Linked DNA regions of Homo sapiens: regions 1, 3 and 4 are each linked to region 2. Evidence: fine-mapped expression QTL. A gene starts in region 2. Each other region holds a variant in brackets. All regions are shown on one strand. Distances are from middle to middle.

Region 1 (2,690 bases), 290 kb before region 2:
GTAAAAATTACAGTGTTTCAAAGACAAATATTTTAAATATACTGACTATAGAAATTTAGGAAAACAATTTTGGAGCTAAATGGAGTTTTATAAGTATAAGATCTTATAGGCTATTAAATGATCACACTTTTCTGTGACTCAGTGTAGCAAGAATTGAAATTCTGTGCTTTGGGTTGTAGACATAACATTTACTTTTTTATAGTTTCCTTATATGGTAAGGGATCTGCCAGTTTATAATTATAGATCTTTCCACATCTCTACACCATTAAAAACGTGGGTACAGAGACATTTTAGAAGGCATACAAATGGTCACAATTCAACTTGACTGGATTTGGCCTATGGGAATTATAAGACTTCCCAAACGAACAAAAAATTGTTTGAATTATGAAACCAAACTTAACATTGCAACTTTCACTATTAAATGTAGGTAATTTCAACACTCAAAATTGATTTCACATAAACCATCATCAGAACGTGTGTATTGCCATATCAATTAACTGCTGATTCTAAAAATAACTTTGAATTTCCAAAAAGCCAGTACAAAAGGGAAGTCTTGGTGAACTGGAAAGGTGTCAGGCAGATTACAAACAAATACCTTTCTTAAGATTGATCTTGACCTGAATAACCCACAAAGAACTTCTGATGTGGTTCCAGATCCACAGAATAAAATAGAAAACAATTTTTATGGTGCAAGTGTTCCAAAATTGTCCTATACTGGATTAGAGGATGCTCTGATTACAAATATGTTTCATCATGGATGGGGTCTGAAGAGGAGACAGGGTAATGGCTTTCTGAGGCTGGAAAACATGAGATTGGCCAGGCAAATGTGTTAGTCTTAAGACAAATGTATACTGTTGAAGTACTTTTTGTTGGATGTAGTCATTCTGCAGATGGCATTCAATCCAAGATCCAGTCACCAAATTATGACCAGCTGAAAAAGTAGCCTAAGAATTCACAAAAGTGGAATAAAAATAACGTGACAAACAATAGCTAGAAGTTAGTCCTTATAACTCATAATTTCACTTCAGGACATCATGCAATTTTGACAGATAATAGGGAATTCTTTCATTTCATCCCTTTGCCCCCAAATATTTAATTATGGCCACATGAAATAAACTGTGTTTTGATTGAAGGGAATCCAACTTCTGAATCTGTCAAAGATGCTGGGGATTAGGGGGCAAGACTAAAACTTTCTTTAGGAATGAGTTTTGTTTTGTTTTGGTGTTTCCAGATTTGCAGTCAGCATATTGTCTGTCCCCCACCCTTCCTCTAATCCCCAGCCCTTCTTACTCTGACAGCTGAGGCTTTGTAACTCCTGCCCTTGGACAACGCTGAGCGTTGGCTCTGGGAACAAATTCTGCTCTGAGGTGCGGAGACTGATTGTAAGGAGCTCCAGACCAGAAGTTTACCA[G/A]TTTAATATTAAACTGTTGGTTCTATCTTACAGTCTCATGCAGTTCCCCAGACACTAAATTCCCCTGTCTTAAACTCAATTTCCCAAGTGGCTGAATATCTATGTTGCTGAGTTTTTACACTATTGGAATGACCTGTACTAGTCTTAGCATAAGCTAATTCCTCTTTTGCTCTATTTAGATGTGCATCTTGGGTCTTGGAATCTATTGGACGTTAACACACAGGTATTTGTTTCTATCTAACGCTCTTGAACTTAAATATTTTATTTAAGATTAAGGCACTAAATGTTACACAATTTGTGTGGGGACTAACATTTCCAACTGATGACTTCACTGTATTAATTTGCTCAGCACCACTCTGGCCTTTTCAAAGAAGATCTTCCGGTGGGTCATTCAGTTTCATGTCAGAAGAGCTCTCCAGCCTCCTGTCTGAGGGACCCTCTGCCTGACTGTGGAATGCTAGGAGGTCTAGGGAAAAGTTCAGGGCTCCTCCCTTCACACGCCAACTTTACCTTCATCTTTCTGTTTTCAGCCTCTAGATTAATTTATTCTTTACTATACTTGTGTTTCTGAGTCCAGACTTTCTGCAGTTCCATTTTAAAAGATATTGTATGTGATGATATAGATTCCCAACTGTATGGGCTGGGGTAAGGAACTCAGGGGTCTACCAATTTTGCACATAGACTTCTAGCCAATTGTTTTCTGACCTGTGTCTCAGCCTTATCTTTTTCAGCATAGGATCTGAACAGCAAGTATGCCTCACTCACAGCTAGTATTTCTCTTCTCTCGGCACTTTCAGTTGTACCTTATTTTGCCTGCTAAGTCAAACTTCATAGAATGAATTCAAATGAATTCAGATTTCTTGTCTGTTATGAGTTATTCTGTTTTTTCTTTGTGGCGGGGGGTGGGGAGTGAGTGAGTAGCTTTATGTCTTTAAAGTATTTTTCTTGGGGTTTCAAGTGGAAGGGAAGATAAATGCTTGTGGTCAATCTGCCTCATTTAGTCTGTACTTCATGCATGATTTTTTAGACCTTATCCTTATGCCAATTTTCTCAAAGTGTGTTTAGTGGGGTGTTAATAGTTGTGATAAAAAAAATAAGGAAAAGTCATTCTGTGGTCAAAAATGCTGGGGAAAAACTGGGTCACACTAAGCTAACCAGCTTCTTTAGTGTAAGAACTTTTGGGATTATTTAATATACTAATATTATTATCTGAGAACCCATAAGGTGGAGGTGTATTCAGTATTTCTCAAAAAACAAAACCTGTTTTCACCAAATTAGA
Region 2 (2,690 bases):
CCTCCTCCAAACTGTCTACTTCATTCCACTGAAATGAAGTGAAATCCTAAGAGATAAAGTAATGCCAGAACTTTCTGGAAGTAACTATAAGAAGTTGAAGCTTATGTAACGTGTTTCCCAGTCATCAGGTCACTCTCTAGGCTGTTTACACTCTGGATCCCTTTCAGACCTCATGGAAGTTAATTTTAGTTTTATAGAAAGGACAGAGAAGCAGATTGCTGTCTTTGCAGAAACTGTCTCCGTTAAGCTTATGAGAGTCTTACCTTTCTGGTTTCCTGGGCATTACCAGAGAGAAGGAAGCACTGTTTGTCCTGAGAGAATCCTTTCTTGCATCTGCTTGCCTGGGTTTCAGTGGATGTGTGTGGGACAGCCCCAGGGGCAGCGGCTGTGAGCTTCCTCGACCCTCGGAGGGTCAGAGTCTGGTAGAAGAGACAGATTGCCACCACTAAGCCCACCAAGAAGGGTCGGGGGCAAAATCGCCGACGACAAGGGAACACTGGGCGACAGACCATGACCAGTTCAGCTTCACTTGGCCCCTGTCCACGTTGCGGGAAAAGTCATAGCAGCTATTTTTTGTCAGCATGAAAAATACTAATCTGTCTTCTTTTTCCCCAACTCCAATCAAGTTTGCTTCATCCCTGCTTAAGAATTTTCCAAAAGGTTGTGCCAAAGAATCATAGGTCCCGAAAGTCTGAGGCTTTTAATAAGAGCTCTTCCATGGATGACAGTCAAAAGTGGATGACCTGAGTTTAAAAAAAGACATCAAATAATAATAGTTGTAACGAATAACCTGAGTGTACCCCAGGCTGCCAAACTGTTGCTTCCAGCAATGCCTTATTCTCACATCTTTCAACTCACAGTAAAGGAGTCCGACTCTGCCTCAGCTTTGCAGGAAGAGAGAAAACAATACCAAAGTATATCTGGAGTCTGAAAACAGCATTGAAGAACGCAAAAGATTAAAACCCAAAGTGCCTGTTGCACAGCTGAACTCAGGCCAGGTTGCCTTAGCAGTTCCTCAATTTTCCTCCGGTTTTAAAGCAGTCTTGCTTTCAGCCTTTTGTATGCTTCCCTTCATTTAGTTTTAAATTCCCACTGTCCTGTAAGTATTCACGGCTTTTAACATAAAAAGGGCATACGCAATTTGAATGGACATGGTTACTGTCAGGGTTTTTGCTTGAATTTGTTTCATTCCGTCTCAAGTTCAAAGTTCTATGTACTTACTCAGTTTTCATCCTTTTAGCCAGGAAAAAAAAAGTTTCCATGATTTCCTAATGGATTGCTGATGAAAACCACTCGGAAGGAAACACCCAGTCGTATGACTCCAATTCATCTCACACACACACAGAGAGAGACACACACACACACGCACACAGACACATAAACACACGCGCGCGCGCCCGCTGCACGCCCGGCGGGAGCAGAGGACCTCGGCATCGCAGCCACCCGGGGCCGGGCAGAGCGGGGCGGAGCTAAGGCCGGGTTCCTCTGGCCCTGGGGGCTGCTGGAGCAGCGCTGTCAGCCCTGTGTCCGAAACCGTGGGCTTCCCCACTTTGGAAACAGCAGCTAGCATTTCCCCAAATGAGGCTGCCCACCCAGAGCTGCAGAATTTAGAAACGTATCTGATGTCTGATCCTCTGTGCAACTTCTTTTTCCTAATACAGAATTGGAAAAACAAATAGCCTTAGCCAATTGGTGACAAAGGTCGAGAATGAGACTAAAGTGAACTCCATGAGTGAATTGGGATATTCTTCACTCCAGGGAATTGTGGTTACTCTTCTGAGGATAAGAGGGTCACAAGTACTGTCTGGACCTCAGACAGCAAGCACCAGAATAACTCAGTCGTCTCTCTGTGTCTTAGTATGGAACTCAGATCACAGATGTTCTTATTACTCCTTTCCTGGACTAATTAATTGGGTCTTTCAATGATCTGATGCTTCATGGCCTGACATTTTGCTCCTAAAATGAGTCGATTATAGCAGGTGTTGGGGGTAACTTTTGCCCAGTAGATAAAGGTACACAGTGGGCTTTGTCCAGAATCAGCTCAGTCTAATTCTGTGCAGACCTTCGGGTGGACGCTGCTAATAGTGCAATTCTGCAAACCCCCTTCCACTTTTGCTGAGGCTGTCAAGGCGAAAGGAAATCAGTCCTTGCTTTGTGAACTCTGGATACCCAGGGCTGTCTTAGCGCATAGCAGGCATTATTTAAAGGCTCTGGACCTGAAGAGGTTTTCAAACTTGTTTCTAAGCCAAACTCTTGTGGGTTGAGGTTCTCCGTGAGGCCACACCCCTAGAGTGAGCCTCACCCAGAGGCACGCTGCTGTCAGCCCCTTGTATTTTGAGAGACGGAGCGCCCCCTAGGGGTGCCCAGCTAGCACAGATTCAGAGAAATGGGCATCTAGAGTTCCTTGCTTGTGAGAAAGAAACCCTTTTAACATCCTATAGAACAAATTAATTAACACATTACAGAAGAAATATTCACACGGAAGCTGGATTTATCCCAAGCCCTTGCATGTATCGCCTCCAGTGGCTTTAATATTATTTTATGTATAGGTTCAGAGTCCTTAATCTTATGACAAATGGGATAGAGAAAAATAAAGTGATGCTTCACTTTTAGAAGCCAAAAGAGTTTTAAGAGAAAATGGCTGAACAGTGGTGTTGTAGGACATATCGTTTTGGTGGATGCAATGTGAT
Region 3 (2,690 bases), 74 kb before region 2:
TTCTAGTGAGTGAGGCATTCATCAACGCTAAAGCAAAACCAAGCAAACACAAAAAACCCAGAGAGTATAGATGGGATGCACTGTCTAAACCACCCACACCCCACCTTCAAATCTCTGCAAGTCAACATGCAAATCCAGAATAATGAAGTAGCTTATTTGATAACATAAAACTAAAACTTGCCCCTGGGAAGCTTTAAAAGTGGTCCTTGGGATCACTTTTTGAAAACCCTTTCATATTTTGAAGCCATGATATTTGCTAAATATAAAAGAAAATACTTGAGACAAATATAGTAACATAAATAACTTGATATTTAGTGGCAATTCAGTGTTAAACCCGTTCCAAAATTTCATAAACATTCTTCACTTCATACTGAAGGGATTATTTCTAAATATAAAACCCAGTCACCCACAAAACTTCACTTCAACCAAAACTTGTTTTTAGACAGCTTTGTAAATATTATCATAAATTCAAATATATGGAGTTTGAAAAGATTATAAAAGATACAACTTTAATTCTTCCCTTCTCCTGTGAATCTACAAATTGATTAACATCATCCACTTAATCCCCAAACTAATACCCAATATGAGAAAACCTTGTTAAAACCAACAGATCAGTATAAATTAGCTTGAAAATCAGATTCATTTTTGAGATATTGATTACTTTCAAATTAACACACTCTAACCTAATAAAGTATTGCAGCACTATGTCCTGCTGGCATGACTTGATAGAAATAACCCAGCTGCAGTTGGAGAAGAGAGGCAACTGGAAACAGGGGTGGTAGCTCGCTTCGGGCACTTAAGAGAATCATCATTTGCTTTTTTTTTTTTTTTTTTTTTCAGTTTCTTCATTTGCAAAATAAAGCATTTAGAGCTTTTAGTCTCTAGGTTCCACTTCTGCTCTAAGATTTTTACCAAATCAATAAGATACAGTTCTAAAAACTGATTCATTTAAAGTGCTTGGCAACTGTGCATTGATGAAATCTTCCCCAATCCTTGCTACTTTATTAACCCTGTTCATGTGTTCAGCAAACTCTCTTTTCCCCGATAATAGCTGTAAGAAGGAAAAACTTCAGCCCAGATCCTGTATGAATGAAGCCTAGCTTCAGCAGAACCTATTATTGTGATTCTGCACCAGTGGCATTCCTAAACACTACATTGTAAAAGTCCACAAGGACACCAAAGTGTTTATTAGTCCTTTTTCATGCTGCTGCTGAAGACATACGCGAGACTGGGTAATTCATAAAGAATAAGAGCTTTAACGGACTCACAGTTCCACGTGGCTGGGGAGGCCTCATAATTATGGCAGAAAGTGAAAAGCATACCTTACATGGTGGCAGGCAGGAGCGAATGAGGGCCAAGTGAAAGGGAAAATCCCTTATAAAACCATCAGATCTCGTGAGACTTACTCACTACCACGAGAATAGGATGGGGGAAACCGCACCCATGATTCAATTATCTCCCA[T/C]TGTGTTCCTCCCACAACACGTGGGAATTATGGGAGCTATAATTCCGGATGAGATTTGGGTGGGGACACAGCCAGAACATATCAAAGTGGACGTCACTGACATTCATTTGCACTAAGAATTGAGAAAAGGCTGTAAGTGCAGTACACTTTCAATCTTAAGGCTGTCTCGATTTCTCAAATCCAAAAGTGAGAAATCTCAGAAACTAAATGTAGAAAAAGAAGGGCTTTCATAAACCCTGAATTCTTCAATCCAGAATTTAAAAAGGGCTGGAGGGAACAAACAGCATTGCAAAAGTATAGATAACCCATAATAGACTAATAAAAAGGACTAATACACACTTTGGTGTCCGTATGGACTTTTACAATGTAGTGTTGTAATAGAGATTTTTTGTTTGTTTGTTTTTTAAGTTCACAAAGTATCTTTCTAAATTAGTCTGTGAAAAGCTTCAAAAATCAATGAAATTGAGCCATTTTCCCTAAATAGGGCAAAATCATTCCGTTGCTGGTGAATTAATAGAATCCTTAACAATATGATTCAGAAAGAGAATCAGCACTGGGTAAGTAGCATTAAAGGTTATGGACTGACTCTGATCCATTGCTAACCTTCTCTTAACCAACAAAGCACTTGAAAATAATAGAGCCAAGCCAAGGGAAACAATTGTTCTATCCTTCTGCCTTCTATTTTCCTGTCCCCCAAACAATGACTTCTCCCTGTGTTCCTTCCTCCAAAGTTCATCTTTAGAATTAATAGTGTGGCTGACGACATGACTGTAGCAACATGTGACACCAGAAACATCACCTCTATTCTACTCTGGAACTGAACACCAAACTAAGCAGTTAAACTGAGTAAAATAACAGCACAAAGAAGTAAAAACATTCAAGGGTCATGTGTCATACAGCTGTAGTAACTCAACTATATTACACAGATTATAACTTTTTAATTGTTAAACCTAGTAATACTCTTCTATATCCTACTGCTTCGTATTTTTACTTTTACACGTATCATAAAATGTATAAGATTTGCATCATTAAGTGGAACATCATCAAAGGAGTTTTAATTTGGATTCACTGACTTTTATATGATGAGCTTCTCCAGCTTAACATTGCAATTATTTTTTAATGGACTTTATTTCTTATAGCTGTTTTGGGTTCACAGCAAAATTAAGCAGAAGACACAGAGATTTCCCATATACTCCCTGCCCCAACACACACACAGCCTCCTCCATTA
Region 4 (2,690 bases), 34 kb before region 2:
GAGGAAAATAACAATAAACCTGAGCATACAATTACTGTGTGTCATAACCCAGTAAAATAGAATAGTGCAGTCTTACATGTTTCTTTGATTCAATTCCTTTTTTCCCCCCAGTTTGATTAACTAAATAAAGTACAGAAGCACTTCTGATACCGTCCAAAGCCTATTACTTGCATAATGAAAAACGTATGTCAAACGTGTTCTAGGCAAAACACCGGCAAGGCAAAACACACAGTGCCTTTTAAATGTGACCTTTACTCTTTTGTCTTCCTGCTAAATAGTCATAGAGCATATTAAACTCAGGAAAGCAGTAGGGTGCTGGTGTGGGGCTAGAGGGGGGAAAGAAATGAGAAGAGAAGTTCATTAGGCTCTCAAGTCTTAAATTACCAGCAGAAGCATCTGCTATAAATGTGCACTATTAGTCCAAGAGGGCCACCTCCAGATTTGCTCCACACTGGTGTTTCTCACCTCTTCCTTGACTGCTATTTCTCTCTTCTGCCCGTGCAACACCAGACAAAGCAAAGACTAAAGAAAATGAATCCCTGCAATGATAGAGATTCACATTTTTGTCTTGTTTTCTCTCATTCTGTGTGTTTGAGTCTTATATTGTACCACAGAACTGTAGAGTTGTAAAAAAGCTTTGGTGGTTATTTCACTCATTCTGCTACATAATACAGCAACCCAGAGTTGCTTCTGTTGCAACCAAACTTCCTACTTTTTGTTCTGGGCTGTTCTATTGCTGGACAACTCTGATAGATAAAATGTCCTTCCATAAACTGGTCCTAGTGATGCCCTCTTGAGTTACTAAAAATAAATCTTGCATTCAAGCACCTTGTTAAACAATGGGAATACAAAAATATTGGTTCAACTACTACAGGGCCTCCCAGAAATATTCTCTTCAGTTGAACAATCTGTTTTCTCATTCCTGCTACAGTTCTGGCTTCTGCTGCAACTGTAGAAATAAACCCTCTTGAAGTATACGTAAATAATTCTGACAAAATGATAAAATATACTCTGTGTCAGAGTCTTTTGAACTACATATTACTGAGACTTGACCCCAGGAGCAGGTTAAAAACTTTGAAAAATATGTATCTTTTTTTTTTTGGCCACTTACTATCCTATGAAGTAAAA[C/T]AATGATTTACTGAATAGCATCTGGATGATAGGAAAGATAATAATTTGATGGTGTCTTTTTTTTCTAGAGAAGTACGTTATTAAAATTCTGGATCATAATATATGTTTTTTCAAAGCAAAGAACTGGAAGACCAATAAAACTTACATTACACTAAGAAATAAACTACAGAGCATAATATAGAGGATGCAGATAGGACCTAAGTGATATGACGCGGTTTTTGACTGTCCTCCTTCTTGCTTTGTATGTTTGCGAGTAGCAAAAGCTGTATACTTACTTTTACCAGAGAGCATCCTTAGGCAACACTGTGTCACACTGCTTTATAGGCTATTGAACCTTCAGTAAATCAATTATCACCTCTCAGCAGATGACCCACAAACCTACATCTCCTGACCTGGCATTTCTGCTTGCTTGAGTTTCTGCTGAATACATCCCTATGAAAATTCACAGCACCTATAACTGAATATGTATAGAAAGAAACTCATCCAACCTGTCCCAAAATCAATAGGTCAAGTAACCTGGCAAATGTAACAGGAGAGCCTTGAAAGCAAGGCAAGAGTAAAATTCTTAAAAATGGACACAAGTACTCAAAAGCCCCAGCAGTATAGAATCATTTGATGTATAAACTATCAGCCCTATGTAATACTATATTTATGGTTTCATTATCTTTGGTGTAAGAGTGGACTTAAGTCTAAATAGAATATCAGTGTTCCTCTAAAGTCAAATAAAATAAAAGTTTTATGAACTAAGTTTAATATGAGTTTCCTGAGTGAATTTGCTGTTTAAGGAGCCCAAATATTGATGTACTATTTTATCTTCCTTTGTTCATGTATTTAATAAATATTTATCATATGCCCCTATGTGGAAGGTGTGGTTATAAATGATAAGCATAAAAGACATGGTCCCTGACCTTAGGAAGCTTACAGATTTTTTTTTTAATGTGAGATTTTTCCAAGGGAATAATCCAGGAGAGTATGTCAGAATTTCAGGAGGATTTACAACCCAGACCTTCTAATGAGAACATATAAGTCGAGAAGGCTAAATTGAAAAACACCTATCAAGTTCATTTTACCCATAATAACATCCAACAGCAGCACTCTTACACTACTGCATATTTTAAATACACCTCCCTACAGGGGAAATGTCATATTCTCCTTTCTGTAACTACTTCTTGACAGCAGTAACAATATTATCTCCCGTTTATGGGGTGATTACTATGTACCATTCTTAAAACAACCTCAAAAGGATCAACTTGTAGATGAGAATACCAAGACTTTCAGAGGATAAGTTACTTGCCCAGGGTTATGTAACCATTAAAAGGTAACACTAAGGACTCCAACCTAGGTTCTGTCTTACTTCAATGCTTATACTTTTTAATTTCCAAAGCCTACTACCTCCCCAAGAAAGTTATTATTGTGGTTAAGCTCGTCTTACTTATGGGCAATTTAAAGCTCGACTTCCTTATAGCTTCTTTTTTATTACAAATAAAAAGAAAAATGTGAAATATGTTTTCCATTACAAAGGTTAAGATTGATCTGTCGTGGATGTTTCTTTTCTATACAAA

Direction of the effects. Positions count from the first base shown, and alleles are read on the strand shown. Sizes are in standard deviations (SD) of each study's normalised expression. Not every link is listed here.
As copies of G replace A in region 1, the expression in macrophages of the gene that starts at base 1,423 in region 2 goes down (large effect, 0.91 SD a copy in Alasoo 2018).
In carriers of allele T in region 3, the expression in uterus of the gene that starts at base 1,423 in region 2 tends to be lower than with C alone (moderate effect, 0.41 SD a copy in GTEx).

What was found. PIP is the estimated chance that this variant, and not a neighbour inherited with it, causes the effect.
Region 1: its variant is the best candidate, but not a certain one, in a credible set for the expression of CPED1 in macrophages (Alasoo 2018, PIP 0.59).
Region 3: its variant is the best candidate, but not a certain one, in a credible set for the expression of CPED1 in uterus (GTEx, PIP 0.72).
Region 4: its variant is the best candidate, but not a certain one, in a credible set for the expression of CPED1 in whole blood (TOPMed, PIP 0.54).

What each region holds. Positions count from the first base shown.
Region 1 is chr7:121,279,074-121,281,763 of GRCh38, reverse strand. All of the region lies in intron 22 of CPED1 (cadherin like and PC-esterase domain containing 1), which reads right to left. Among named protein-coding and RNA genes, the nearest start is that of WNT16, 49 kb to the left of the region's middle. The variant G/A (reference allele first, on the strand shown) is at 1,412.
Region 2 is chr7:120,987,444-120,990,133 of GRCh38, reverse strand. It overlaps CPED1 (cadherin like and PC-esterase domain containing 1), which reads right to left and starts at 1,423. Exons shown (of 23, transcript NM_024913.5): 1 at 1,222-1,423; 2 at 264-743. The coding sequence starts at 512. RefSeq lists an enhancer at 2,168-2,247.
Region 3 is chr7:121,061,529-121,064,218 of GRCh38, reverse strand. All of the region lies in intron 4 of CPED1 (cadherin like and PC-esterase domain containing 1), which reads right to left. Among named protein-coding and RNA genes, the nearest start is that of CPED1, 74 kb to the right of the region's middle. The variant T/C (reference allele first, on the strand shown) is at 1,463.
Region 4 is chr7:121,021,429-121,024,118 of GRCh38, reverse strand. The region is part of intron 3 of CPED1 (cadherin like and PC-esterase domain containing 1); the gene reads right to left. Among named protein-coding and RNA genes, the nearest start is that of CPED1, 34 kb to the right of the region's middle. The variant C/T (reference allele first, on the strand shown) is at 1,129.